Linked DNA regions of Homo sapiens. The protein of the gene in region 5 purifies or fractionates together with the protein of the main gene of each other region. This does not show direct contact. Each region holds a gene or a part of one and is shown on either strand. Other genes may lie near its edges.

Region 1 (4,967 bases), on a different chromosome or scaffold from region 5:
TGAAGGCCTTCAGTTTCAGAATGCTCTGGGCTGTAATCCCAGTTTGCCTAAACATAATGTTACCATAAGAAGTGACCAGCAGCATAAAAATATACAGTTGCAAAACTCCCATATTCACCTTGTTGCCAGGGGCCCTGAGCAGACCATGGATCCCAAGCTGTCGACCATCATGGAACAACAGATAAGTTCAGCAGCCCAGGACAAGATAGAACTGCAGAGACACGGAACTGGAATCTCTGTCATCCAGCACACCAACTCCCTGAGCAGGCCCAACTCATTTGACAAGCCTGAGCCTTTTGAAAGAGCCTCCCCAGTTTCTTTCCAGGAGCTGAATAGAACGGGGAAGTCCGGGTCTCTAAAAGTGATAGGAATCTCCCAAGAGGAAAGTCACCCTTCTCGGGACGGGTCTCATCCTCACCAGCTTGCACTATCAGACGCTCTCAGAGGAGAACTTCAGGAAAGCTCCAGAAAGAGTCCAAGTGAACGACATGTGTTAGGACAGCCCTCAAGACTTGTCCGGCAGCACAACATCCAAGTTCCAGAGATTTTGGTCACAGAAGAACCAGATCGAGACCTGGAAGCTCAATGCCATGATCAAGAAAAGTCAGAGAAGTTCAGTTGGCCCCAGCGTAGTGAAACCTTGTCAAAATTGCCAACAGAGAAACTGCCACCCAAAAAGAAAAGGCTCCGTCTGGCTGAGATAGAACATTCCTCAACAGAATCGAGCTTTGATTCCACTCTCTCCAGGAGTCTAAGTAGGGAGAGCAGTTTATCTCACACTTCAAGTTTCTCAGCCTCTTTAGACATAGAGGACGTTTCTAAAACGGAGGCTTCCCCCAAAATCGATTTTCTAAATAAAGCCGAGTTTCTTATGATTCCAGCTGGCTTGAATACTCTGAATGTTCCTGGATGTCACCGGGAAATGAGGCGTACTGCATCAGAACAGATTAATTGCACGCAAACGTCAATGGAGGTCTCTGATCTCAGAAGCAAATCATTCGATTGTGGAAGCATCACCCCACCCCAGACAACACCACTTACTGAATTGCAGCCTCCATCTTCACCTTCTCGAGTGGGAGTGACTGGGCATGTGCCTCTCTTAGAAAGAAGGAGAGGCCCACTGGTACGGCAAATATCTTTAAACATAGCCCCAGATAGTCATCTGTCTCCTGTACACCCAACATCTTTCCAAAATACTGCTCTTCCCAGTGTGAATGCAGTGCCATATCAGGGGCCTCAGCTCACTAGTACATCTTTAGCTGAGTTTTCTGCAAATACTTTGCACTCTCAGACTCAGGTTAAGGATCTGCAGGCAGAAACATCAAACTCCAGCTCTACCAACGTTTTTCCTGTTCAACAGCTCTGTGATATCAATTTGTTAAATCAAATCCATGCACCGCCTAGCCACCAGAGCACACAGCTATCTCTGCAAGTGTCTACGCAGGGTAGCAAGCCAGATAAAAATTCTGTTTTATCTGGGTCTTCTAAAAGTGAGGATTGCTTTGCTCCCAAATACCAATTGCATTGTCAGGTTTTCACTTCAGGCCCATCTTGCTCTTCTAATCCTGTGCATTCTTTGCCAAATCAAGTTATTTCAGATCCAGTTGGAACAGATCATTGTGTGACATCAGCAACATTACCAACCAAATTAATTGACAGCATGTCTAATTCGCATCCTCTGCTACCACCAGAGCTCAGGCCCCTTGGAAGTCAGGTGCAGAAGGTGCCATCATCATTCATGCTGCCCATACGCCTGCAGAGTAGTGTTCCTGCTTACTGTTTTGCTACACTCACATCCCTGCCACAAATACTAGTGACCCAAGATCTGCCCAATCAGCCAATTTGCCAGACTAATCATAGTGTAGTGCCAATCAGTGAAGAACAAAATTCTGTGCCAACATTACAAAAAGGTCATCAGAATGCTTTGCCAAACCCAGAGAAGGAATTTCTATGTGAAAATGTTTTTTCAGAGATGAGCCAAAATTCTTCTCTATCAGAATCCTTGCCCATAACTCAGAAAATATCTGTTGGTCGACTTTCCCCTCAACAAGAATCTTCAGCTTCGAGTAAAAGGATGCTTTCCCCAGCAAATAGTTTAGACATTGCCATGGAAAAGCACCAGAAGCGGGCCAAAGATGAAAATGGAGCTGTTTGTGCAACAGACGTGAGACCTTTAGAGGCTTTGAGTTCGAGAGTTAATGAAGCTAGTAAACAGAAGAAGCCTATTTTAGTGAGACAGGTTTGTACTACAGAGCCCCTGGACGGTGTGATGTTGGAAAAGGATGTTTTTTCTCAACCTGAAATTAGTAATGAGGCTGTTAATTTGACAAATGTTTTACCAGCTGATAATTCATCAACAGGATGCTCTAAATTTGTCGTTATAGAACCTATAAGTGAATTGCAGGAATTTGAAAACATCAAGTCATCCACATCATTAACTCTTACAGTTCGAAGTTCACCTGCTCCTTCAGAAAATACTCATATTTCTCCTTTGAAATGTACAGACAATAACCAAGAAAGGAAGTCTCCAGGGGTTAAAAATCAAGGTGACAAAGTGAACATCCAAGAGCAAAGTCAACAGCCAGTCACTTCTCTTTCATTGTTTAACATCAAGGACACCCAGCAGCTGGCTTTCCCTAGCCTGAAAACTACAACCAACTTTACATGGTGTTATCTCTTAAGGCAGAAGTCGTTGCATTTGCCTCAGAAGGACCAGAAAACTTCAGCCTATACTGATTGGACAGTAAGCGCCAGTAATCCAAATCCACTCGGTTTGCCCACAAAAGTTGCACTTGCTCTCCTTAATTCAAAACAGAACACTGGAAAATCACTATACTGTCAAGCAATAACTACCCATTCCAAGTCAGACTTATTGGTCTATTCAAGCAAGTGGAAAAGCAGCTTAAGCAAGGTACTTGAAATATAATTTATCTTCAGATATGGTTTGCGCAAATTTGTTTCCATGTGTCTTGATACCTTTAAATATTTTAACTGGAAATATTTTAATTTTGAGTGACAAATTGTGCTGTAAATGTCTTATTTGAAAGACAGGGTGATATATTTACCCCAGGAGTTACATTGATAAGAGTTACCAAGAGTCTTGCAGTGATTCTATCTTGAAAGATTTTAGAAATGATTTACCCTGAGCACTTTTCTTTTTCTCAGCTAACTATATAAGTCTTTACTTAGTAGTACAGATGATCATGGTTTTACTTTGATGTTTTACTTATATTGAGGTTTTGTTTTTCTTGTTAAGTGAAAGGAAATCATGGTTATGCTTTGTTCCTCCTCATGCAGGGAAACAGGTGTAGATAATCAAAGATAGTTGTATTTCATCCTGAAATATAAGCAGAAAGCCATTTAGACTTGTCTTGAGCTTACTAGCTACACGCCCCTGTCATGCTATGTAGCTGTCTTCCAGTGTAGCTGTGAGAACCATTAGCACTAGAGAGAAGTTTCACAAAATAATTCATATACTTGGTAAGTTGATTTGGTCAAGATTTATAAAGTAATTTAAGGTCATGAAACTGTAACTTGGGGTAATTTGTGGAATCAGTCTCATTAGAATTATCAGCTTTATAAAATGGGAAAAAGTCATTTACTTGATTAGAATAATAGGTAAGCATATCACGTTCGACTCTGCATATTCAGAAGTATTTGGCCTCTGCAGATTCATAAGCATGCAACACAGGTTAATAAACATTTACAAATCTGTCAGTAGGAAAATACTGCAGTATCAGTATTACCATAGAATTATGAACAATTCTAAAGAAGGAAGTTTCTAACATTACTGGTAGGTGGAAGAGAGAAGAATTCAGCAAACATACTCCAAAGGTGGTGATACTTTAGCTAACTGTTCAAATTTTTTTTAAAAAAATAGGGATTTTTCAGGCAAAGAAGAAGCAGCTTTTTTTTTCGAGACAGAATCTCACTCTGTCACCCAGGCTGGAGTGCAATGGTGCGCTCTTGGCTCATTGCATCCTCCCCTCCCGGGTTCAAGCAACCCTCCTGTCTCAGCCTCCTGAGTAGCTGGGATTACAGGTGCCCACCACCACGCCTGGCTTTTTGTATTTTTGGTAGAGACAGAGTTTCGCCATGTCTGGTTTGGCCAAGCTGGTCTTGAACTCCTGACCTCAGATGATTCACCCATCTTGGCCTCCCAAAGTGCTGGGATTACAGGTGTGAGCCACCGCGCCCAGCAAGAATAAAAAAAAAAATTAATAATACACGAAATGACATGGAAATGAGAATAAACTTGGTTCATTTAAAGAACTCTGAAGAGTCTGGCCTGGTTAAAAAGAGTTATAATTTGGAAACATAGGTAAAAATCAAATCATGTGTATGGTGGTGGAGAACCAATGATACTTTCTCAGTGAAGGAAAGTGCATCCAAACCACCTGTGGAATTTGTTAAGTTCTCAGGCTCTAAATCTACTAAATCTTGGAAGTTAAGACCTAATAGTTAGAATTTAAACAAAACTCCGTGTATGTTCCTGAAGTGTTTGTGGAGAAGAGAAGTGGCTCTCCTTGAGTACCAAATGCCTTGGAAGAAATGTCTGGAAATGCATATCTAGATTTGGAGCTTAGGAGAGAGCTCTGGATGGAAGTGTGTAGAGTAGAGATTCTTTTGTGTAGAGTAGAGATTCTTTAGTGCATAGGTGTGATTAATGAGATTGCTCAGGGTATAAAGAAGAGGAGAGAGCCTAGACTGGATACTGGGGATCACTACTATTTAAAAAGTTGAATGGTTGAAGAAAGTCCACACTCCTGTATGGAAACTGAAAGAGTTTGATCATAGAGGAAGGATAAGAATGAGCAGAAAGTGGCATCACACAAAACACAGAAGAAGATATTCAAGGAGAGTTGTTAGGTCAAATAAAGTTGAAGGCAAATGGGTATATCTGGACTGCGCAGATCACTGGAGAGTTGAGTCTATGAGCAAGTGGCTATGGAGCATGGATTACTGGG
Region 2 (4,967 bases), on a different chromosome or scaffold from region 5:
TACAAAGACATTCAAGATGAAAATTTCAGGACCCTTGATCAGAAGCTTTCAATGTGTGTTGCTCCACTTTGTTGTAGGCAAGCTTCAAGTAAGGCTAAGACAGAAGAGTGTTTCTACTGAAGATGTGATCTAAGAATTGCCTTCTACAGAGGCGAATTATATTCTGTAGAAACTAGCTAGCCACCAAGATGTTACCAATAAAGGATTCCTTATACTAGCAACTAACCATGTTTAAAAGGCCTTAGCCATTTAGAGTAATATTTATGAGTACAAGCATAATTGGTTCCTTGCCTTCTACAGATAATCATCTATAAAATGATAAAAGCAGGCTTCAACTGTGTTTCTTCTCTGGGGTGAGAAGGTGCAGATACACATGGGTGATCTACTGATTTACCTTCTGAAAGTACTCTTTGGAAGCAGCTGGATTTGGCTTGATTGTAGGAGAATCCAGTGTCCAGTTTGCTGGGCAGACTTCTCCATGGGTTTCTACATACTGGAACGCCTTCACCAAGTGGAGGGTTTCTTCCACGCTTCGGCCCACTGGGAGGTCATTGACGCTCAAGTGCTTGATGACTCCATTGGGGTCAGTTATGAAGAGACCTCTTAGTGCAAGACCAGAACCTTCTAACAGCACACCGTAGTCTCAGGAAGTTTGCTCAAATCTGACAAGAGTGGGATGTTCATGTGGTCCAAACCACCATTATTTCTTGGTGTATTTATCCAGGCAAGATGACTAAAGTGGGAATCCACTGAGACCACAACTTCACAGTTCACATCATGAAATTCCTTAGCTTTGTCACTAAAAGCAACAGTTTCTGTAGGACCACGAAGGTGAAATCCAAAGGATAGAAGAAAAGCACCAAATTATTTCCCCTTAAAGTCATCAAGGCTTAGGTCTTTGAACTCTCCATTGACAATGGCTGTACCCTTAAAATAGGGTGCATGCTGGGCGACAGCAGGTGCATGGTATGAGGAGCTGGTGCTAAAGAATTTTGCTTGACTGGAACCAGACCATAATATGTTTGTCAAGCTCGTTCTTCCAGAAGCAGCAAGCTTGAGGGCTGCAGTGGCAGAAATGCCCCAAGGAATGGCACTCACATGTCGGGCAGCCGATGCTCAGAGTAGCCTTCCCACAGCAGCTACCATCTTCAGTGCACGCGGGCGAAACTTCCTTTGTCTTGTACTTAGGTCTTGGCCTGAATTTCCATCAGCCCAGAATCTTCTGCTACTTCCTCCCCTATTTAGTTCTTGGTCTGAACACAGCCTAGAATTATCCTCTTCCTTGTTCCTTCTGGTTCCAAATGCAGAAATCTTGAGATCCTGAATCTGGCACCTCTTTTCAGGTGACCCCAGGCAGAAGGAGTTGGGCTCTACCAGCTAAGCTGGATATATACGGGGAAGTTTGGACAGAGGGTCTGATTACCTTTTGCCACCAAAGCTTTGACACAGGGTTGCAGGACTAAGCCTTCATGCCTTTCTCCCTCACTGCTAAAGATTGTAGAAAAGTATCCCTTTGGGAAGCCTCATAATAAGGGTCTCTGTAGACTTCTAAATGTCTAAGAGATCCTTTTTGTTGGATGAGATTTTTTTCCAGGAAGTAGTGCATTCTGAGAACTGAAGTGTGAAGTGAATTGTTTTTCTTGGGGACCCTCAAGTCACATGCTTACAGGAGGCAGGTCGTCTAGACACAAGAGAAATCTGCCAGGTTTCAGACGCAGAACCCTAGAAAAGAGGCCCCATCTGTGCTTTTCTTACTCTAGCAGCACCCAAAGTTTTGATCCTCCTTTTTGCTTCTCCAGGCATTGTGGCATTTAACACTGGTCCATCTATCTGTCTGTCTCCTGCTTGCATCAGTAATGAGTGGACCCATCTTGCTCTTAAAGCCTGGCCAAAGAGAAGGCTGTGTCCCCCTAATTCTGTTCCATTGCACCCTTTAAGAAACCCTGAAGCTGTTACAGCGCCTGCTGAAGTCACCAGGCTGCCGGAAGATCCCCGTGCTGGTGCAGAGCAAAGATGATGTGATTGTCACAGCCTCCAACTTCAGCTCTGAAAGGTAACGCGTGGGGAGCGCACACTTCAGACAGGCACCCTTGCAGGCAGGACCACAGTGAGTGATGGGCCTGGAATGGCTGTCAGTTTGGGCATAAGGTCTCATGAAAACACCACATCAACACCTCTCCCTATTCAGAGATCGGAGGAAATAGAAGCTTCCAATCTTAGCGCAGGGTCTCCCAAGCCAGCATTGTTGCCCAGGGGTAATATCACGTAACCCAGATTGTGAGGTGCTGGCATTCCTGGGGTTGGCATCCCGGCTGAGACTTCAGTGTCCTTATCTGTGAAATGGGAATAACATTCCCTTCCCTGTAGGGCTCCCGTGAATGTTGGAAATGAAGTATGTAGAGCACTTAATGCCCTGCCTGGCTGATGGATGGTAAATACACAGCCATTTTTGTAACTCAGTTTTTTATACTGTTGTTCCTCAAAAGCTCACTAATCAGATCAGTTTTGGCATTTACTCATTAATGTATTCTTTCATTCCATAAATATTTATTGGATGTTTGTTCTGCGAGACTCTTCATCTAGATGTTGAGGATTCAGAGTTGAATTGAACACAATCCTTGTCCTCAAGGTGTTCAGCTCCTTGGTGAGAGATGCTCTCTCGATAATGGTGAACTCTACTAACTCTGCCTGTTTGCCCAGAGCTTGGTCTATAGCGCCAGGCCCAGAGCAGCCTGGCTTTTTGCCTATGCCTCTGCCCTGATGTGATCTTCAGTACCATCAGTTAGCCTGCAGAGGGGGCACATTTCAGACAGCCCCATTTGAGCTTGTTGATATTCTTGAGTGCCTATTCTGTGCAGGCACTATTCTAGGAGCTGTGGGGAATGTGTAATTCGTGATCTCAAGGATTTTAATTCAGTCACCCTGAATAGGAGCAATAGAGGCCATTTACAGGACTCTGATGAAAAATCAGATGCAGTCATGTGTAATAGAGAAAAAGCTCTCCAGGAACTCAGAGGAGTCAAGAGTGTCCACCCAGGAAGGATTTCATGGAAGAAGTGGTATTTGAGATGAGCTCTGAAGGGTGAGAGGGCCTGGTAGTTGCATAAAAGGGAAAGAATTCAGGAAGGAAGGTCAGAGTGAGCAAATCCACAAGGGCAGAAAAGTTCCAAAGTTTTAGGAGAAGGGAGAGTTCTCTGGTGTGGCTGGAATATAGGAATTTGCGAGAAGTGAATCTGCAGAGATGGCTACAAGCCCAAGCCAAAGGGCTGTGAGTGTTGGGAGAGGGATTTGGGGTATCTTCTCTGTGGTGGAAAGGCGGTTAAGGATTTTAAGCAAGCATGCGTGTGTTTTAGGAAGAAGCAGTCATGAGGTTCCAAACTAGGGCAGTGGTGGAGGACAGAGAGGAGAGGACAGGTGTCAGAGACAGAACTGAGTGAGAGAAGAAGGCCTCAGAGTAGGGCTGGCCAGGAGCTTGCTAGGTCAGGGCAAAGAGGTCAAGCCCTTGGAGGCAGGTGAGGGAGAGGTGGAGTCATGAATAGTGGCATCTGCTCCTCGAGCCCTGTTGCTGCCCCTGGTCTGTGTCAGGGCAGGACCTGGTCTCCTGAGTGCCTCTCTCCTTTTTTCCTTCCTCTTCTCCCTCTGCTTAGGATGTGCCCGATATTCCAGATCTCCAACGTTACAGGCGAGAACCTAGATCTGCTGAAGATGTTCCTCAACCTCCTCTCCCCCCGCACCAGCTACAGGGAGGAGGAGCCTGCTGAGTTTCAGATTGATGACACCTACTCCGTCCCGGTAAGTGGCTCTGGGCGGGTAGCTGGGTGGGCACTTCCTACAGTGGCATCAGGGGGTGGGTCTGTGCTGGGGATGCACTTATGAGGCCAGGGTCTTCTCCTTGGCAGGGTGTGGGGACAGTGGTTTCGGGGACAACACTGAGAGGCCTGATCAAGCTGAATGACACGCTGCTGCTGGGCCCAGACCCCTTGGGTAACTTCCTGTCCATTGCTGTCAAATCCATCCATCGCAAGCGCATGCCTGTCAAGGAGGTGCGGGGTGGCCAGACAGCATCCTTTGCGCTGAAGAAGGTGAGTAGCGATGATACTGAACGCTCCCCTCAGACTCCATCATGCTAGGCTCTTGGCCAGATGCCCTGCTCACCCACTCTAGTCCTCATGGCTGCTCTGCAAGGTCGGGATTACTGGCTTCATTTTTACAGATGAGGAAACTGAGGCTCAGAGCCCAGGGACTTGCCCAAGACACACAGCTTGTAAGTGCTAGAGCGAGGAATGCCTCCTTCTAAGCTCCGTTCCTCCCTCTGGTGCCTGAGCAGGGTGGCCTGAGCTCAGTGGTGAGGTCAAATAGGAGTATCCCTGCTGTGCAAGGATCCTTCTACATAGGACCATTGGGATCTGCGCCACATCCTCTTCCCATTCAGCCTTCTATCTCCTGGGGTTTGGGGTGGGTTGTAGTTCAGGGGTCACCTACCTTTACCCACCAACTAAATTAACCAGGAATAGTAGGACTTTCTTCCCCACAGTGGTCAGGTCATGCCCACCTGTTGTTCCCCCTGAATGCTTGCCTGCCTTTGCTTCCTCATGCGTCCTTCATGGCCGAGCAGCTGAAGTGCTGATTCCCGCATGAAGCCTTCCTGACCCCCAGTAGTAGTGTTGAGTCTTCCCATGGAGCACTGAGGGTGCTCGTGCTGTCCACCCTAGAAGGCCTGTGGTCCAGTTGGTGAGGAAACCAGGCAGAGTTGGGGTGGTCCCTATCCCTAGAAAGACTCTTGGTCCCTGGGACCAGGGGTGAAACCAGAAGGCATAATTGTCCCTGAGGGCTGGGGCTCCCTCTTTCTTTCAGATCAAGCGCTCGTCCATCCGGAAGGGCATGGTGATGGTTTCCCCACGTTTGAATCCCCAAGCCTCCTGGGAGTTTGAGGCCGAGATTCTCGTCCTCCACCACCCCACCACAAT
Region 3 (4,967 bases), on a different chromosome or scaffold from region 5:
TGGGAGTAGATTTGCTGGATCAAATGGTAACTCTAGGTTTAACTATTGGAAGAACTGCTAGGCCATTATTCAGAGCAACTGTATCATTTTATATTCCCATCAGGAGTGTATGTGGATTCCAGTTTCTCCATATTTTTGCCAAAATTTGTTTTTTAAAAATTATAACCATCCTTGTAGGTGTGAAGTGGTATCTCCTTGTGTATTGCATGTCATCACATCCCTGATGGCTAATGACTTGGAACATCTTTTCATGGGCTTTTTGATCATTAGTAGATCTTCCTTGGACAAATGTCTATTCACATCCTTTGCCCATTTTTAATGTGGGTTGTCTTTTTATTGTTGAGTTGTAAGAGTTCTTTATATAGTCTAGATACAAGTTTTTTATCGGTTTTAGCTCTTCATGTAGGTCTTTGATGCATTTTGAGTTTTTTTTTTGTATATGGTATAGTAAGGGTTAGTCCAACTTCACTTTTTTTTTTTTTTTTTTTTTGCATGTCAACATACAGTTTTCCCAGTACCATTTGTTGGAAAGACTATTCCTCCATTAAATCATCTTGGCACTATTGTAAATAATTGATTGATGGTAAATATGAGGGTTTATTTCTGGACTTTCAATTCTATTCCATTGATCTCAGTGCCTGTTTTTATATTAGTACCATACTATCTTGATTACTGTTGATTTGTAGTAAGTCTTGAAATTGGAGATTATGAGTCTTCCAATGTTCTTCTTTTTCAAGATGGTTTTGGCTATTCTGGGTTCCTTGAAATTTTGTGTGAATTTTAGGATCAGTTTTTTAGTTTCTGCAAAGAAGCCAGCTAGGATAAGGGATTGCACTGAATCAGTAGATCAACTTAAGGAGTCTCTTCTTATGTTTTCTGTTGCTATGACAGAATATCACAGACTGGGTAAATTATAAAACAATACAAGTTTATTCAGCTCAGTGTTCTGGGTGAGGCCAGGAAGTCCAGGAGCATGATGGCTCTGGCATTTGGTGTGGGTCATCTCATGGCAGAAGGAGGAAATGAGTGCAAGACAGAGTAGTTGCTCATTGCTTTATAGCAACCCAGTCTCATGACAACTAAACCACTTCACAATAACGGTATTAATCCATTTGTGAGGGCTCTGCCCTCATGACCCAATCACCTCTTTTTAGGCCTTTCCTCCCAACACTGTCGCATTGGGGATTCAGTGTTCAACACATGAACTTTTGGATAATATGTTCAAATCATAGCAGGGATGTTATTGTTAACATCTTGACAATATTAAGACTTATGATCCATGGAATGCATGACTTCTTTTGAGGTCAGAAACATATACATTTCCTCTACATCTGTGTCTCTGTGTTATTTTTTTATTTTTATTTTTTCAGAAACACAAGAGCCGAAAACGCCGGTAAGTTGCCAAAGCTGGTGGAGGGGAGGGGAAGAGTGGGCAGAAATACCAGGGGTGCAAACTCCAGTGGCCCCGGGGCAAGCAGGTAACAACCAGCTGGGTGCACCAGCACACATGAGCTACTGGCCCTGGTTTTAGAGGGAGAGGTGGACAATGGCCAGGTGGAGAGAGCCCTCTCACAGCATCCAGTTCAAGTTGGCTCTGGGGCAGTGTTGTTCTCCTGAGTGTGGAGGGTCCCCACCTGCCGTGCAGGGAAGGAGAACACTATCCTGCATGTGGCTTGCATTTCTCGGGGCCAGTCAATGTCAGGCTTGTTTCTTGATCAGCCCCCTCCCTCTGAGAGCCTTAGGCCATGGTGGTTTGTGTTGATGGTTGTTGGGTTCACAGGGATGAATGAGGAAGAGCTGTGTCCCAGTCAGAGCTGTGCAAAGATGGAATAGAGTGCTTTTGGAGGGAGTGAGTTCCCTGTGCTCACTTCCCACTGGCAGTGTGCAAGCAAAGGCTGGAGGACACCTTGGGATTGTTGGACTAGAGCATCCTTAGGGTCCCTTCCAACTCAGACATCCCATGAGCCGGATGTGTAAGTGTGATTTCTGCCTGCAAGGATGGCAGCCATGTTGGAGAACCTCCTGTTTGTATTTCTCCTAGTTGGGGCAGGGTGAGCCCTCGGATTGAATGCTGAAGGGAGATGGCAGCCCTGTTGGCCTTGGCCCATCTCCCATCGTAGCCCAGTCCAGTCTTGTCTTGGAGAAGGTGGCCAGGAAACTTGGGCCTGAGGGAAGGGAACAAGTCCTGTTGCTGGTTTCCAGTTGGCCCAGTTCGGCCCAGGTTGCATGGCTCTGGCCCTGCCCACCATACCCATTGTACTTTTCCAGACTCTTCTGCACCATGGAGCCAGAGCCAGTCCAGCCCGGCATGCTTATCGATGTCTGCAAGTACCTGGGCTCCCTGCAGTACCGCGTCTGGAAGAAGATGCTTGCATCTGTGGAATCTGGTGAGCGGGGGTGCCGGCAGGTGTCCCAAGCATGGGTGGAAGCCCTTCATGTTAGCAAAGAGGCACCAGGGCTGGTCTCTGCCGGGCCCACCTCCCACCTCCTCAGAGCTCCCCTCCTCTCTCAGCTGATCCCTCTGCCAGTCCCTCGCAGGCAGGTTCCTGTACCCTGGTCTTTTCCACTCTGCCCAACACCTCCAACCCTCCTGGTAGAATGCCTTCTCTCAGGGTCCTGACACTTGGTCCCTTCTTCAGAGAGGGAAACTGGCTTTCTTGCCTATTCAGAACTGTGTTTTGTATGATAAAAGACCTCCTGCATCTGGGCTTGCCTCTCCTAAGGCGACTGCAGCCCACATGAGCCACAGTGTCCTGGTTTTACGGGGAGGAATATCACTGACTCAGGGAATGGGCCGTGCTGTCCTAACATCCCTTGGTCGTGTGAGTGTTAAGAGTCTCTGCCTGTATGAGTTCCTGTGGCTGCCATAACGAAGGACCACAAACTAGAAAATGACAGAAGTTGACTCTCTCACAGTTCTGGAGGGTAGAAATCCAAAATCCAGATGTTGGAAGGACCAGGCCCCCTCTGAAACCTGTAGAGGAGAGTCTTCATTTCCTCTTCCGTCTCCTGGTGTCTCCTGGCCATTCTTGGCCTTATTGGCTCCCCCTCAGCACTTTGATCCTCACCTCCGCCATCACACAGCATTCTCCCCTGTGTATCTGTGTCTGTCTCCTCTTTATTTTAAGGACACAGGTCATATTGGATTGGGGACCCTCCTCCAGTCTTCATCTTAACTAATATGTGTACAACCACCCCATTCCCAAATAAGGTCACACTCGGAGGTACCAGGGGTTGGGACTGCCGCATATCTTCTGGGGGATACAGCCCAACCCCTGCCACCACTCCAGCCCTGGGCCACTCCTTGCATGGACTTGGGGCCAGGTGTGACACAGTGGTTGGTTTGTGGGGCTGGAGATATCCACGTGTGGCCTAAGGGACCTCAGGTTTGCTGATTCCCCATTTCCGCCTCTGCTTGCAGTACCCTTCAGCTTTGACCCCAACACCGCAGCTGGCTGGCTCTCCGTGTCTGACGACCTCACCAGCGTCACCAACCATGGCTACCGCGTGCAGGTGGAGAACCCGGAACGCTTCTCCTCGGCGCCCTGCCTGCTGGGCTCCCGTGTCTTCTCACAGGGCTCGCACGCCTGGGAGGTGGCCCTTGGGGGGCTGCAGAGCTGGAGGGTGGGCGTGGTACGTGTGCGCCAGGACTCGGGCGCTGAGGGCCACTCACACAGCTGCTACCACGACACACGCTCGGGCTTCTGGTATGTCTGCCGCACGCAGGGCGTGGAGGGGGACCACTGCGTGACCTCGGACCCAGCCACGTCGCCCCTGGTCCTGGCCATCCCACGCCGCCTGCGTGTGGAGCTGGAGTGTGAGGAGGGCGAGCTGTCTTTCTATGACGCGGAGCGCCACTGCCACCTGTACACCTTCCACGCCCGCTTTGGGGAGGTTCGCCCCTACTTCTACCTGGGGGGTGCACGGGGCGCCGGGCCTCCAGAGCCTTTGCGCATCTGCCCCTTGCACATCAGTGTCAAGGAAGAACTGGATGGCTGAGCTGGCCCGGGGCTGCCCCGGTCTTGTGCCACAGCACTGTTTTCTTTCTGCCCTCTTCCTAATGCCCACACTGCTTGGGCACTATTGCGCCCCTGCCTCCTTGCCAGGCTCTTCCTCCTGTCCTGCCTGGTCCTTTTCCATGACTCCAGGCTGTGCCTCTCTCCATGTTTGGTCCCTTCTGTGCCCATGGTCAGGAGCTATTCGGGTGGCACCTCGCTGGCCAGGCTCTCCCGAGTCGTGGCACCTCCACAATGTGAATTTTCTGAATCCCTATTCCAGGATTTCTGGGAATAATGTTTACTTCTAGAATGGGCCTGTTGTAAACCATCTCATCGAGGTGTGGTAAAGCCATTGGATGAGGAGGGGACTGCCATGGAAAGGAGAGTTTGTTACTTACGGTTCTGAGAGGAGGGGCCACATAGGAAAGCCCCACGGTGGGTCAGAAGGCGGAAGGAGGGAGGGGAACGTGTGGGCAAGAGACTTCCTCTGGTTTCCTCAGGAGGAAATGGGCAAGGCAGAGTAAGCAGGGGAGACAGGTTTAAGGGTAGCTGGCTTGAGTAATTTCAGTGGCTCTCAGGATAGGGGCTGCCCTTTTTGTCTGATACCTGGCCCCGGGATAGTCAGGACAGGTGAATGTTGGCCTGGGGTGTGACAGCCCTGGGAGAGCCATGTGAAGGAGGCAGCTGGCGCCATCGCTCCGGATTAGTTGGTTTCCATAGGAAAGGCATGCTTTCAGCCAGATGCTTGCCATCTCTAGGGATTGGGGGATTGGCTAGCCTGGGAGGATCAGTCTGTCCAGGTCAGCGAGGCCCCAGATACCAGAGCATCAAGAGTACAGGAAATACAGTTAATGCAGGGCCTCTGTGTGGCTGGATCCTCCGTCTCCATCAGATCAGCTCTGATTGATCTATTCTTGCACGATTTCCTCTGAACACAGGGTTCCAGAGTACTTAAACACAACATTTTTT
Region 4 (4,967 bases), on a different chromosome or scaffold from region 5:
AGACCACCCTACATCCTCCTGTGTGTGGGACACTGCCAGGCTGTCCTCCCTGCATTAGCCTCTGCTGAGTTCCTACCATGTGCCAAGCATGGCGTCCATAGTCGGAGCATAAAGGACTGAGAATGGCCCAGTCCTCCTGCTTTTCTTTAGTGCCCGCTGTGCCCTGCTTCACTCTGGAGAGGTTTGTGTACCCTCGTGCTCCTCTGGGAACCAGAGACCAAGGCTGCATGCCTCTGTATGTCCACAGAGCCTGGCATGCTGTAGGAGCTCAATAATTGTGTGCCAGTTTGAAAAGAGCATCCAGATGGCAAGGCCCTCTCATGGACTTCTGAAAGTAGGAGTTGTGGACCTGTCAAGCACATGGGCCTCAGCAGGCACATGAGTCAGTGGCTAGTTCAGGTTCAGCCAGGAAGCCTATCTGTGACCTTACCTGGGAGTCCTCATGGGATGCCTTGGGGCCCTGGCCACAGATTGGCCCCCAGAACCTCAGCTCTCTTCCTCTGACCCTTGGCCTGAGATGGAGTGAGTGTGTCCCAGTGTTTCCTCCCCTGTGCTCTGGGAGGGCAGTGACCAGGCTGGCCTTGACTTTGGGCCCTTAGCACAGGGCCCGCCCCAGGCTAACGCTCTGTGAACCTCTGTGAGAAAGGAAGAAGGGAGCCAGGAAAACAGTGGATCAAAGGTGAGGCTGAGTCATGCAGTGCTGGTGGGCCCTTGGATCAAGGGCTGGGGCTGCTGGGGCTCAGGATGGCAAAGTTTGCTTTTCCAAGACCTTGTCCATCCCAGGCCCTCCCCACATCAGCCTGGGTTTACTTGCTGAGCTTTGGGCCTTCCTGCTTGGCCCACAACCCAGTGCTCAAGTTGTCTGGGCTGAGATAGGGACACTGAGGGGCTGGCTAGCTCCTTTGTGCCTCCAGTTCCCTTGGAGAGGAGGGTGGCTCTTGGCAGGGGTGGGCTGTGGGCTTCCTGACCTTGGGGTAGAGGCAAGAGCCTCCAGCTTCTGGCAGTGACCGGGCAGGGCTGTGTCCTAGATCACCATCCCGAGGGGAAAGGACGGCTTTGGCTTCACCATCTGCTGCGACTCTCCAGTTCGAGTCCAGGCCGTGGATTCCGGTAAGTTATTGACAGGGGGATGCCAACCCCACTTGCCCACCACACATGTGGGCTTTGCAAACATAGTCTGGAACTAAAAGGGGAGCCCCAAACTGGAGCAAAGTGTCCTGGCTTTTCAAAATGAAAAGAATAATATTTTTAAGTGACCGTAGATGAAACTGCCATTTATGAAAATATGCCCACTTTTTTTTTGTTGTTTTTATCAAAATGAAAATAGGTTTTTATATTTTGTTTCCCAATCAGTTTGAACAGGAACTAAACCTATATTTTCAGCAATGGCTGCAAGGGAAAATGAGAGTCATTTGTGAACTCTATTTGAAGCTGTTTTGTATCCTATCCAGAGCCTGATCAGCACTTAAAAAGAGCCATCCTTCCCTACTTTTCACAAATGAAGATTTCTCTTAATCACAGAGTGAGCATCTCAAAGACAGAAGCCAGGGCTCAGTGGTCAGGGTGTTTCCAGTGCCTACACAAGGGTGGGCATGAGGTTCGTGCACAATGATTGGCAGAGAAGGAATAAATGTAGTGTGGGAGCCTGGCCCCAGGGAAGGTTCTCAATGGGGTAGGAGGCCCTGGGGAGGGGTAAGGGCCCGGGTAGAAGGGTGGACTGCAGAGAGGTAAGCCAGCAGTAGGGGAGGTAAGCCAGCAGTAGGGGAGGCAAGCAGGGAGAAGGGAAGGCAAAGGGATGCCTTCTTTCAAGGCTCTTGAGAGGCACCAAGTTCAGTCCCTCATTTCACGGATGAAGAAACTTAGAGAAAAAGGGAGGTCCTTGTCTGAGGTCACCATGGCAGCAAAGGACTCCAGATCCTTTGAAGGGGTCTTAGGCTTCAGGGGCCCCTGAATGGCTTTTCTTTGTCCCTGCAGGGGGTCCGGCGGAACGGGCAGGGCTGCAGCAGCTGGACACGGTGCTGCAGCTGAATGAGAGGCCTGTGGAGCACTGGAAATGTGTGGAGCTGGCCCACGAGATCCGGTGACAGGGGACAGCGGGTGGCCTGGGGCCTCAGGCTGATGGCACACCCTCCCCACCCCTGGGCACACTGCCTTGCCTGGCCCAGCTCTTGCTGCTCCCTCTTTTGCCTAGCTGTGAGCAGGCAATTCCTTTTGCTCTTCAAGGAATCTGTTTCTTGGCCTGAGAATGGAAGGTTCAGGCTCAGAGCACTTTTGGATTCCAGAGCAAACAGCAGGGAAGATGCTCTCAGACTCTGTGGTTCAGGACGGGGCACCAGGAGGTTGCTTTCTGCTTTAGCTAATTTTTGTTACCTAAGAGCTAAGCCCATTTGTTATTTAAGGGCATGAAGATGTTGCAAATGTTTCAATTGCACAATTAAAAAAATATTCTTGAAAACATTGGAGTCTCCCAAATTTTGATCCTCTAGGGTAAAACCCCGATGGCCCCATTTTAGGTCTGCTTCTGGAATAACCAGATGAGGGCTTGCACTTAGGTGACCTGCTAGCTTTACTTGCTTATATCTTGCTTTTGATAAGCATCATGGATTGAGTATGGAACTCTTTCCTGTTGAAACTGGCCTGGCCTCAGGGTCCTTCTCAACCACTGCCCGTCAATAGGAATTGACCTAGGTGACCCATTTGCTGTCTCTTCTTTAAATGGCTTCTTGCATCCCTTCCTGCCCTGACACTGGGGGCTTCCCCTCTGGTGTCTGCCTCCTCTTCCCCCATTATCCTCTCTGCCCTGTGGGCCCTCACTCTGGCTGATACTGGCTTTCCCCAGGCTCAACCTGTCTGTGTGATCCCCCACCTTCCAGGAGCTGCCCCAGTGAGATCATCCTACTCGTGTGGCGCATGGTCCCCCAGGTCAAGCCAGGACCAGATGGCGGGGTCCTGCGGCGGGCCTCCTGCAAGTCGACACATGACCTCCAGTCACCCCCCAACAAACGGGAGAAGAACTGCACCCATGGGGTCCAGGCACGGCCTGAGCAGCGCCACAGCTGCCACCTGGTATGTGACAGCTCTGATGGGCTGCTGCTCGGCGGCTGGGAGCGCTACACCGAGGTGGCCAAGCGCGGGGGCCAGCACACCCTGCCTGCACTGTCCCGTGCCACTGCCCCCACCGACCCCAACTACATCATCCTGGCCCCGCTGAATCCTGGGAGCCAGGTACGGACAGCTGGTGTGGGGAAGGTGAAGGGTACTGGGTCCCTGTGGGAGGCCAGGAAGACTTGAAGACCCAAAGTTGTGTGATGAGCAGCCTGTGAGGGGCTGCGATGTTGGGCAAGGAGATGGGGTATGTGCTAGCTCTGCCTTCTGCAAGGCTGTTCTTGGTAGGGAGGACAGATGGGTCTATGTGGCCTCAGGGCACAGATTCAAGACCAGGGCATGCACAGGCTGGAAGATTTCAACTCACAGAAGGAAGAGCTTTCTACTAGCCTGTGCTTTTCCCCAGTGGAATGGGCTGCCTTGGTAGGTGGTGAGCCCCCATCATAGGAGGTATGAAAGCAGACACTGCATGATTGCATGGTGGGATGATGGAGTGCGCTCCCCAAAACATTAGTCCCATGAGATGCTCTGGGAAAAAGGTGTTCTGAGGTCAAATAAGCTTGCGACATATCCCATACCCTCTTCCTCATCTAGGAGATTCTCAATGCAAAGGAGCCTAGTAGAGGCTCTGCTGGCATCCTGTACTACAGCAGGTGTCAACCAAATAACACCGCATTTCCCAAACTTGCCTAATGGGGGCACACTTTAGGGCGTGGTTGGTACCGTCTTACCATTCCAGTGTTCCCTAGAATGCACTTTGGAACCAGCTGCTGTAAAGGAAGTTGGGGACTTGCCAAGGGGTTAGGCTTCATGACCCATAAAGCCTCTTTCAACTTGAATATTCTGGGATTTTGTGTTCTCTCCCAGCCTCCTCCCTCAGCTGGTTACCAGAACTGCTGTTTTTCTCTTGTGCCCTGAGGTGCTCCACTTCCTCTCCCCTGGGGCCCCCGTGTCCAGCAGCCTCCTGGGCTGTCCTGCCCTGTTCCTGGGGCTGAGGTGGTTTTCCTGTCTTTCCCTTGCAGCTGCTCCGGCCTGTGTACCAGGAGGATACCATCCCCGAAGGTGAGTCTCCTGCTGCTGCTGTGCCCTCCTAGCTCAGAGAGGCAGCAGGGGTCAGCTGAGGCCTGGCCCAGCCTCCGCCCCTGAGTTCTGAGGCCTTTCCAATGGAGTCAGGTCACTTAGCCTATCGACACAGACTCTCTTTCCACGTGGTACCTTTTCTCCCTCACGGAACCAATGTCTTTCTTCCTTGAAGCCAGAACTGAGAAGGAGGAGAGGGGATCTTACCAGGGCATTTTGAGAGACCGTGTGTCCAGGCCTCAGGCATTCAATTGAGATTCATCCAATTTTACAGAGCAACCGATATATATTAGGTGCCAGAGGCAATGTGGTTGGGCTTGCATGGAAGGGAGTCAGGGAGCGTGGAGGTGGGAGGTCTTGAGTTGGAGTTCTAGCTATATGACTTTGAGCAAATCATGTCTCCTTGGTCGGGCGTGGTGGCTCATTCCTGTAATCCCAGCACTTTGGCAGGCTGAGGTGGGTGGATCACGAGGTCAGGAGATTGAGACCATCCTGGCTAACACAGTGAAACCCCGTCTCTACTAAAAATACAAAATCACTACTGGGCGTGGTGGTGTGCGCCAATAGTCCCAGCTACTCAGGAGGCTGAGGCAGGAGAATCACTTGAACCTGGGAGGCAGAGGTTGCAATGAGCCGAGATCATGCCACTGCACTCTAGCCTGGGTGACAGAGCGAGACTCTGTCTAAAAAAAAAAAAAAATCCTGTCCCCTCGCTGAGCCTCAGTTTCTTCATTTATAAAATGGGGTCAATAATTCCTACCTCAGAGGGTTGTTGGGGGGAT
Region 5 (5,670 bases):
AGTATTTGATAACAAAAGAAGGCTCTTCTTAGCTATTGCTCCAGATACGACCAGCATAGAATATTTTTCTATTAAGCATAACTGACCTCCAGTGAAAAAGGTTCCCATTTTGTGGGGAGCCACTTTTGAAATAGCAATTTCATTTTATTATTATTATTTTGAGATAAGATCTCACTTCTACGCCCAGGCTGGAGTGCGGTGGTGTGCCTCCTGGGTTCAAGCAATTCTCCCACCTCAGCCTCCCAAGTAGGTGGAACTATAGGTGTGTGTCACCACGCCAGGCTAATTTTTGTATTTTTTGTAGAGACAAGGTTTTGCCATATTGCCCAGGCTGGTCTCGAACTCTTGGACTCAAGTGATCTGCCTGCCTTAGCCTCTCAAAGTGTTGGGATTACAAATGTGAGCCACCGTGCCTGGCCTAGCAATTTCATTTTTAAAGAAAGAAATATAAAACGATCTACCCATTCACATTTTCCCCATCCATACTTTAAATTTTAAAAATATGAAATAATGAAATACTCAGCAGATACAAATAATAAAATACTTATATATAATGATATTTCGACTTCATATTAGGGCTTCAAAGGTCAGGAAAGAGGGAGAGATACAGAAGAGAAAAAAAAAAAACGTTAACACATGAGTGTCTTTTTTTAACTTGTTAAAGGTAAAGTTCAACCCAGGAGAAGGGAGGGGAGGGAAGGTCAAAGTTCTGATTCATCAACAAATACTACTTTATTTGTTAAAAATACAAGGCTCTGCTTGGCGCAGTGGCTCCCGCCTGTAATCCCAGCACTTTGGGAGGCCAAGGCGGGTGGATCGCCTGAGGTCAGGAGCTCGAGACCAGCCTGGCCAACATGGTGAAACCCCGTCTCTACTTGGGAGGCTGAGGCAGGAGAATCGCTTGAACTGGGGAGGCAGAGGTTGCAGTGAGCTGAGATCGCACTGCTGCACTCCAGCCCGGGTGACAGAGCAAGACTCCATATCAAAAAATAAAATAAAATAAAATGAACAATGAAAAGACAGGAGGGAGGTTCCTGAGTAAGCTGATTCGAGTGGAAATCAGACATCAAAATTGAAACCCGCTGAATTTTCCAAAAAGCCAGATGCTCATAGAACTGAAGCTTGAGACACTTACATCAGTACACCTGCTGCCTGTTGACCAATTCCTCTTCCTTGTCCCTCCTGTTTTCCTTCCCTGCTATATAAGCCCCTAACTTTAGTCAAGGGGAGGGATGGATTGGAGGTTTGTCTCCCCTCTCAACAGCTCACTGGCTGATGTCACCGGAATAAAGTCTTCCCTGGCAATACTCGCTGTCTCAGTGATAGGCTTTCTGTGCGGTGAGCAGCCAGACCTGGACCAAACCCCTGGCAATCCATAACAAAATCATAAGCAAAATCAACCAGGAAGCTATTTGCACCCTGGAACCCCACCTGGGAGGGGAAGTCAAGGCAGACTTTCCAGAGAAGGCGATGCTGAAAATTTCAGAAACAGAAATTTTGAAGAGCAAGAGTTACCAAGCGAAGAACATTCCATGAGAAGGAACAGGAGGTGTGTGAAGGTGGAGGTTCTGGGGTGAGGTTCTTTATGGAATCGAAAACGGTTCAGAACCACAGGTCGACGGTCAAGGTAGTAGTGAGAGGAGGTGGGACAGGCGACCACGCCGCTGCCCCTGGGATGACTGGAAGGCGACTTAGGGGAGCTGGGGCGAGACAGGTGCAGGGTTTGAGGATGAGAAAGGCACAGAGTGACTAGAGGATTCCCGCCTGCAAGCACATCTGGAAGGGGTGTCTGGATCCTGGGGGCAGCGACTGTGTTCTAGGGCGAGAGCCACCCTCGCCAGGGGTGTAGGCAGGCGAGAGGAGGGCCTGGAGCTGTGGGTCGGCCACACTGCGCCCTCATTTGTGTGCAGCCCCGGAGGACCAGAGTGGGGAAGCACCCCACCCTCTCCCAGGGCCCAACTGAGCACTGCAGCGGGAGGTACGGGGTTGTCAAATGACAGTTTTGCCATTCCAGATTGCCAAAAGAGCCAGTGGCCAGTCTAGGGCACCGCGCCGTCTGGCATCTCCCTGGAGGCCCTGGGCCTGGCCCGAGGCTCAGCCCGGATCTGCAGTTGCCAGGTCAGTGCGGGGCCCGGAGTGGATTCGCGGGGCGGGGCGGGGCACTGCCCGCGCCCGGAGCTCAGCAGCAGCTGCCCAGGGGCGGGGGCGGCAAGACGCGGAAGTGCCCGGCAGGTTGGCGGACCGGCGGGAGGCGCAGCCTGGGCAGAGCTCAGCTTGGTCCCGCCGCCCGGCCGGTGCTCCCTGGCGCAGCCACGCAGGCGCACCGCAGACAGGTGGGTCCCGGCCGCCGCGCTCTCCTCTCTGCGTCCGCGCCCGGCGCGCCCCGAGGGTGGCGGGAGCGGTGCCGGCTACTGCCCCCAAGTCTAGGCCTAGACTGGGCCCCGCGCCCCCCAGGCACCTGCGGGCGGCGGGATGAAGACTGGAGTAGGGCGGGGTCCGCGTCCAGCTGCGCCTGGAAAGCGAGCTCGGGTGGGTGCCTACAGCAGGGTGCGCCCGGCCGGCCTGGGACTTCCAAAGCGCCTCCCACGCCCCGATCGGTTTGGGGTGCTGGCGCCCGGGGAGCCCAGTGACCCAGGCGGCGGAGTGGGCAGCGCTGCGGGGGGCGCCGGCTCTGCTGCTCTCCCTCCCCCTCGCCATCGCCCAGAATGGGGGTTCCCGGGAGCCCCGCTGGAGGCTGGCTTGGACCACAGAGGAGCGAGGCCCGATCCTTACTTTCGATGCACTCGCCCTTGCTCTTACCGGGCCACCCTCACCCTTTCGGAAAAGAGGTTGAGGTTAAAGCGTTCATCCCCCGGGATCTTCAGGCCAATGGCAGGAACTGTGCAAGAGTTTGGGGGAAGATGGTGTCAGGTAGAGGCTGCGTCCCTGGGCTCGCGGCCGGGAATGGCAGACTCTCGTCCCCCGAGCAGCGGAAAAGGATGGGGCGCAATAGTTCCTGGGCTGGTTTCCTCAGGTCCTGTCCCAGAACTTAAGAAGGCAACAATGAAGAGGCTAAACGTGGAGGAAAAGTGAGGCTAGCATGGCCGGGATGCGTGGGGAGATGGTTGTCTCCGGACCCCGGGAGGGGCGGGAGCGGGTACCTGGGAGCAGAGGCTGGAGTGGGGGACTTTCCCAGCCTCGCGGCCACGCTGAACACAGCAGGGCGAGGACCGGGGTGCTGCTCCTCCAGCAGCAGGAGGAGAGGTCCAGAGGCCGACTCTGGAGGTGGGGGTGGCTCCGCGGGCTGGCCCAGGGGGTGTGCCCCAGCGGAGCACGCGGGAGGGGTGGGGGCGGAGGGGAGGGGGGAGCAGGGGCGGAGGACTGGGCTGGGCCTGGGCTCCTCGAGGGCCCAGAATGGGGATAAGTGACCAGAACCAGAGAGGGCTCGGCTGTATCGATGTAGGAAACTGTAGCCCCTCAGGAGGCCCTCTGGCAAGACCTCCCCTTCCTGCCCCCACCCCCAGTAGTTATGGGGCCTGGGGTGCTGGGGCTGAGGGGTTCCAAGAGTCAAGGGAAGCACTGGGAAATCACCCCTTTTTATCTAAAGGCCCTACTTTGGGGTTTTTCCCCTGTACCCTGGTCTTCCCCTACCCTGACCCTGGGAGGAAGCTGAAAGAAGCTTCTTTCTGGGCACCTTTTGCCCCAGAGCCTCAGCCTGTCTGGACCAGGTGGGCAGCAGGGCCCAGGGTGTGGGCAGCTGACCCGGAGGGGTGGGATTTGGGGGTCAGGGCCTGTACAGGGAACCCCTTGTCCTCTCCCTGAGCTGGGTGTGGGTTTGCAAGGAGACATGTGACCCAGACCAACCCTGGGAGCAGCAGGGCGCCTGCTGTCTGGCCACTCTTACTAGGACTGCTGTGGCACTTCCTCCCCTAGTGGGTCCCTGGTGCCCATGAATTGCAGCTCCTGGGTGGTGGTGGGGGCACTGTCTCCTGGGACTCCAGCATGGCCCTGGGGTGAGCTGTGGGCTTACCCCACCTCAGCAGGTCCTCTAGGGCTGCCCACTGGATGCTTCGCTGCCTCACACAATTGTAGGGACTTCCTCAGGCTGTTGGATTTCCCCACCTTCCGGGGCTCAGGTCCATTGACTTAGGTCTAGGGCTCCATACATTTCACCCAGAGACTCCGGAGCCTGGCAGGCAGACCTGTTCTGACACCGAACTTCCAAAGTCATGGGCCTTGATTGGGGTGGTCTGAATTAGACCTAGCCCTTTTCTGGGCAGAAGGGAGCTTCTAGGAGGATGGATGCTGTTCGGGTTAGAGCTCGTGTGGACCTAGCTGCAGGCAAAAGCCTTGAGGCTGAGTCCCTTCTGTGGCATGGTGGACAGACTCTCGCTCATCACAGCCGGGCTTGTCACGGGAGCTCCTCCTCCACACCCCTCCCTAAGCTGCCTGTATGGACGCGGCCCTCTGACACTGAGGTCGGAGTTATCATTTCAAAACCTTGCTCTGTATTAAACAGCCGTGTTGGGCAGGGCCAGACTGCTGGACTGACAGTAGGGGGCAGGCAGCCGGACCCTCTGAGCTCCCCAACGGCACCAGCGCCTGCACGGCCTCAGCCCAGGGGGTCATTAGGGAAGCTCTCCCCGATTCTGTGCAGACAGAGCTTCCTCTGTCCACCCTTGCTCGGCCAGAATTGTGTGCCGCTGGTGACTGGCACCCCTCTATTCTAGGGCCAAGGCCTCTCAGGGGTCTACAGATACAACTATGGGTGGGTGCACACCCATGTTATAAACCACACTAAATGCACAAAAACTGTCTGCAAGTTTGGGGTGCGGGGAACAGCTCTGGGTGGGAGGTTGGAAATTTGGTCTGGGGGACCCACTCGGCTCCCTCCCTCAGCCCACAGTGAGTCTGGTTTCTGAGTTGTCCCGGTCTAGCCACTTTCGTTTCCCCTGGGGCCGGGTGGAGGCTGGGGCAGAAAGCGGAACTGAGCCCGCGTGTTCTGAGGCCAGGGCAGGGCTGGAGCGTTCTGAACACCTCCCCGTCCCAGCCCCTGGGCCAGGCAAGGGCCGGCCTTACCTCTCCTGGGTTGGTGGCAGCAGAGCTGGGCTCTGAGGGAGGCCTGCAATGTGAGACAGTAGCAGCTCAGAGGCGGCACTAGGCAGGTGCAACCCCAAAAGGTACTGGGCAGGGAATTTCAGGGGAAACTGAGGCTCCATGCTGCAAGGCCAAAGCAGGCCCAGACACAGGGAGTTCAGCTCGAACGTTTGCTCCTTACTTGCTGACCGACACATTCACTTCTGATGGGCTGTGCTGTGTAATGACCCAGTCCTTTCTGTCTTCCACCCAGGGGTCTCAAGTGAAGGGCCAAGGGCATGGGTAAGGGGAGGAGAGGGACAGAAGGGGACTCAGGACTGTGGAGAGTTTCCGGTTCTGGGCTGGAGAGGGAGTTGGGCAGGTGAAGGGGAGGAGGCAGGGTCCCTCTGGCCTGACTCCAGGGAGGCAGTGAAGCTGTGGCCTGGGAGGCGGGGCTCGTGCCCCTGGGTAGGTAGCAGTTAGAGCTGTGGCTTCTGTTTCCTGTAGCCTTCCTAACAGGCTCCGGCAGGCGTTAGGGCCTTCCTAAGTGCTACCCGAATGCGTGTCCAGTGGGAGGAGAAGGGGGAGGACCAAGAACCTAGATGAATGGCCCTA
Region 6 (3,914 bases), on a different chromosome or scaffold from region 5:
TCTGTAGTTTTCAACTCTCTTTCCTTCTCCTATTTTGACATCATCCCCCAAGACCCACTGTATTCTAAGCTTTAGTCTTGAATTCATTGAGCTCCATCATCACAGGTACCATTTGCCTTTTTACCTCTTCCTTTGTTGGTACTATAACAAGCAGATCTAGTTCTGGCTTTTCAGAGTCTGTCTCCTAGAGAGAGAACAAGGAGATAGTTGTTACCTTGGCTAGTTGACTGTTTTCTTCTCTGGAAAATTTATTTTCTGGCCACAGTGCCTGAAAGATATTTTTGGCTGGCAGCCCTTGCCTTGTCCTGGGCTTTTTGCTAGTGACTGCTAAGCCCAGTTCAGGATGTCAGTTGTACTCATGCTAGCCCTTTCCATCCCCCCAATTTTCATGACCATATACTTGTATCTTTCAGTGTTTTGAGGACCTGTGTTCAGTCAGGACCTCTTGATTCTGAGTATGAGCTGTGGGGAGGGAGGGGATCATCCCAGTCTCAGCAGTCTGGGATCCTCCCCCTGGCAGGAATGCAGCGAGGAAGAGGATGGCTACAGCAGTGAGGAGGCAGAGAATGAGGAAGATGAGGATGACACCGAGGAGGCTGAAGAGGACGATGAAGAAGAAGAAGAAGAGATGATGGTGCCAGGGATGGAAGGCAAAGAGGAGGTGTGTGGGGAAGGGGAGCAATGAGTCTTGAAAAGCCACAAGGCAGGTGTGAATCCCCTAATTTTGATTTTGAGACAGGGGATCCCCCTGATACTTTAGGATGGAAGTAATAGTCATGGGGATTTATTCTGCAAGGGGAATGAGATGGTAAGCCTTTGGGGTTGAATTATCTAAAAACAAGGGAGAGGGAGTGTGCTGCTGTCTCTAGAAAGATGAAATGTGTGCTTCTCCTGTTTGTTAAAGCTCTTTTGGGGGTCCCAGTGAAAGCAAGCATAGGTGAACGATCAGGAGCACATCAGTGAGGAACGCATGTTCAGAAGCCCCCATGATGCTCCTTTTCTTCCTCTTAAGCCTGGCTCTGACAGTGGTACAACAGCGGTGGTGGCCCTGATACGAGGGAAGCAGTTGATTGTAGCCAACGCAGGAGACTCTCGCTGTGTGGTATCTGAGGCTGGCAAAGCTTTAGACATGTCCTATGATCACAAACCAGAGGATGAAGTAGAACTAGCACGCATCAAGAATGCTGGTGGCAAGGTCACCATGGATGGGCGAGTCAACGGGGGCCTCAACCTCTCCAGAGCCATTGGTAAGGGCCAAGAAACTGGGAAAGACTTCTAGGGTCTTTCTCTCTGTCCCAGACTACCTAGTAGCAAACTTTAATCTTCCTAGTGCTTGTGCCTTTCAAAGCACTTTAATATCTACTACCTCTGTTCTTATATTTCTGTGAAATAACTAAGATGGGTAGAGGTATCATTATACATAGGTATCATTATACCCATCTTATGTAACATTTGAATGATGAAAAAGACCTGTGAGTGCCGGGCGTGGTGGCTCACGCCTGTAATCCCAGCACTTTGGGAGGCTGAGGCTGGTGGATCGCCTGAGGTCAGGAGTTCGAGGCCAGCCTGGCCAACATGGTGAAACCCCATCTCTACTAAAAAAAAAAAAAAATACAAAAATTAGCTGGGCATGGTAGTGCAAGCCTGTAATCCCAGCTACTCAGGAGGCTGAGGCAGGAGAACCGCTTGAATCCGGGAGGCGGAGGTTGTAGTGAGCCGAGATCGTGCCATTACACTCCAGCCTGGGCTACAAGAGTGAAACTCCGTCTCAAAAAAAAAAAAACAAAAAAGACTTAAAATAAAAAGACCAGTGAGTGACTTTCTTAAGGTTCAGCAGTCTGGTGGCAGGGTTGAAACTAGAAAAACTAGGACTTAGGACTCAGTTCCCCATTCCACTAGATTATGGAACTTTGTAAAGAAGGGAAATGAATGGCAAGGTTTGACCTGCCACAAACACAAGTCTGTGGGAAGTATCCAAACTGCTCATCAACCATTCCTTTACTCCAGGGGACCACTTCTATAAGAGAAACAAGAACCTGCCACCTGAGGAACAGATGATTTCAGCCCTTCCTGACATCAAGGTGCTGACTCTCACTGACGACCATGAATTCATGGTCATTGCCTGTGATGGCATCTGGTGAGCACTGGCAGAATGCCCTAAATTCCCCTTTCTGCAGCATGTCTTCTCTTATAGGACTCAGGGCACCTCTAGGATTAGAGCCTAGGCAGACCTAGGCCTCTTGGTGGGTGAAGAGCACCCAGACTAAGGCAGAGCTGAGAATTTCTGTAGTTATTTACACTGGCCTGGGCCACCACCTCTGTCCATACTCCTCTACGCTGCCTTAGTGAGACTGGAAGATTCTGACTGTTGTTCTTGACCCCAGGAATGTGATGAGCAGCCAGGAAGTTGTAGATTTCATTCAATCAAAGATCAGCCAGCGTGATGAAAATGGGGAGCTTCGGTTATTGTCATCCATTGTGGAAGAGGTGAGTACCAGGGTGGAGAAGAGAGGGTGTCTGGTCTGCACAGCCAGGGTTCACTCTTTTAATCTGAGCTAAGTCGGCAATCTGGGAGCATTATCAGTAATTGCTGACAGACGCTAAACCCCGACTCCAAAGTTCCACCTTCTGTCATTTCCCTGACTTAGCCTTATGCCTTATGGACTAGCAGGTGGGCCGTTGTGTGATACCTCTTGCCCATTCCTCTCCTACCACCCTGACTCAGCAAGCCAGCCCTCTTGTGGGACTGTAGATTCCTGGCAAGGTGTTCAAACCCTGTGGCTGAGCTACCCCCATCCCTTTCTTAGCTGCTGGATCAGTGCCTGGCACCAGACACTTCTGGGGATGGTACAGGGTGTGACAACATGACCTGCATCATCATTTGCTTCAAGCCCCGAAACACAGCAGAGCTCCAGCCAGAGAGTGGCAAGCGAAAACTAGAGGAGGTGCTCTCTACTGAGGGGGCTGAAGAAAATGGCAACAGCGACAAGAAGAAGAAGGCCAAGCGAGACTAGCAGTCATCCAGACCCCTGCCCACCTAGACTGTTTTCTGAGCCCTCCGGACCTGAGACTGAGTTTTGTCTTTTTCCTTTAGCCTTAGCAGTGGGTATGAGGTGTGCAGGGGGAGCTGGGTGGCTTCACTCCGCCCATTCCAAAGAGGGCTCTCCCTCCACACTGCAGCCGGGAGCCTCTGCTGTCCTTCCCAGCCGCCTCTGCTCCTCGGGCTCATCACCGGTTCTGTGCCTGTGCTCTGTTGTGTTGGAGGGAAGGACTGGCGGTTCTGGTTTTTACTCTGTGAACTTTATTTAAGGACATTCTTTTTTATTGGCGGCTCCATGGCCCTCGGCCGCTTGCACCCGCTCTCTGTTGTACACTTTCAATCAACACTTTTTCAGACTAAAGGCCAAAACCTAATCGTACGCATCGTGTCCTTTTTTTTCTGCTGCCGTGGCCCCCGACTTGGTCCCATCTGTAGCATGTGGCGAGCCCCCATGTGAGTGTGTGCGTGTGCTCGTGTGTGTCCTGCGCGTGTATAGGAGAGCCCAGAGCGAGCTGCTGGTAGGCCGGCCTGGCGGGCGTCGCGGCTGCCCCTCGCCCCCTCCTGCAGCCAGAAATGATCTAGTTCCCCCAGGGACAGGTTGGGACCGGTCTGGCTGGCCTGAAGCCTGGAGTCGGGCAGGACGCCTCCTGCGCTGCTCCCTGGCCGGCTCCCCGCTGCCGCTGATTGGCTTGCTCCCCGCCTCGTCACAATCACTTCCCGGTCACGCCATTGAGGCTCCCGCCGCGGCCGCTTCCCACGGACTACGCGTCCCGTGCGTCTCTGCGGCGGCGGAAGCGGAAGCGAGTACGGAGGTACCAGCTGGTCTCCGTAGGGGGGTAGGGGGCTCCATGAATGGAAGCGGCGGCGGCGGCGG

What was found.
Region 1: the proteins of IRF5 (region 5) and HIVEP1 purify together in Homo sapiens (affinity purification with mass spectrometry; one large-scale study listed by BioGRID and IntAct). This does not show direct contact.
Region 2: the proteins of IRF5 (region 5) and GTPBP1 purify together in Homo sapiens (affinity purification with mass spectrometry; one large-scale study listed by BioGRID and IntAct). This does not show direct contact.
Region 3: the proteins of IRF5 (region 5) and TRIM35 purify together in Homo sapiens (affinity purification with western blotting, with the first as the bait; one study listed by BioGRID). This does not show direct contact.
Region 4: the proteins of IRF5 (region 5) and RGS3 purify together in Homo sapiens (affinity purification with mass spectrometry; one large-scale study listed by BioGRID and IntAct). This does not show direct contact.
Region 6: the proteins of IRF5 (region 5) and PPM1G purify together in Homo sapiens (affinity purification with mass spectrometry; one large-scale study listed by BioGRID and IntAct). This does not show direct contact.

Annotation. Positions count from the first base shown.
Region 1 is NC_000006.12:12,122,960-12,127,926, forward strand, and holds part of HIVEP1 (zinc finger protein 40), read left to right. Parts: coding exon 1-2,911; intron 2,912-4,967.
Region 2 is NC_000022.11:38,722,359-38,727,325, forward strand, and holds part of GTPBP1 (GTP-binding protein 1), read left to right. Parts: intron 1-185; exon of another isoform or gene 186-1,164; intron 1,165-1,938; coding exon 1,939-2,053; intron 2,054-3,647; coding exon 3,648-3,792; intron 3,793-3,899; coding exon 3,900-4,082; intron 4,083-4,854; coding exon 4,855-4,967. UniProt on the Homo sapiens protein: Promotes degradation of target mRNA species. Plays a role in the regulation of circadian mRNA stability. Binds GTP and has GTPase activity.
Region 3 is NC_000008.11:27,286,582-27,291,548, reverse strand, and holds part of TRIM35 (E3 ubiquitin-protein ligase TRIM35), read left to right. Parts: intron 1-1,370; coding exon 1,371-1,393; intron 1,394-2,268; coding exon 2,269-2,387; intron 2,388-3,421; coding exon 3,422-3,999; 3' UTR 4,000-4,967. UniProt on the Homo sapiens protein: E3 ubiquitin-protein ligase that participates in multiple biological processes including cell death, glucose metabolism, and in particular, the innate immune response.
Region 4 is NC_000009.12:113,504,414-113,509,380, forward strand, and holds part of RGS3 (regulator of G-protein signaling 3), read left to right. Parts: intron 1-1,028; coding exon 1,029-1,110; intron 1,111-1,974; coding exon 1,975-2,080; intron 2,081-2,873; coding exon 2,874-3,225; intron 3,226-4,127; coding exon 4,128-4,167; intron 4,168-4,967. UniProt on the Homo sapiens protein: Down-regulates signaling from heterotrimeric G-proteins by increasing the GTPase activity of the alpha subunits, thereby driving them into their inactive GDP-bound form.
Region 5 is NC_000007.14:128,935,717-128,941,386, forward strand, and holds the start of IRF5 (interferon regulatory factor 5), read left to right. Parts: upstream 1-2,210; 5' UTR 2,211-2,333; intron 2,334-2,500; exon of another isoform or gene 2,501-2,529; intron 2,530-3,409; exon of another isoform or gene 3,410-5,670. UniProt on the Homo sapiens protein: Transcription factor that plays a critical role in innate immunity by activating expression of type I interferon (IFN) IFNA and INFB and inflammatory cytokines downstream of endolysosomal toll-like receptors TLR7, TLR8 and TLR9.
Region 6 is NC_000002.12:27,380,699-27,384,612, reverse strand, and holds the end of PPM1G (protein phosphatase 1G), read left to right. Parts: intron 1-520; coding exon 521-661; intron 662-1,012; coding exon 1,013-1,247; intron 1,248-2,007; coding exon 2,008-2,137; intron 2,138-2,384; coding exon 2,385-2,487; intron 2,488-2,807; coding exon 2,808-3,014; 3' UTR 3,015-3,414; downstream 3,415-3,914.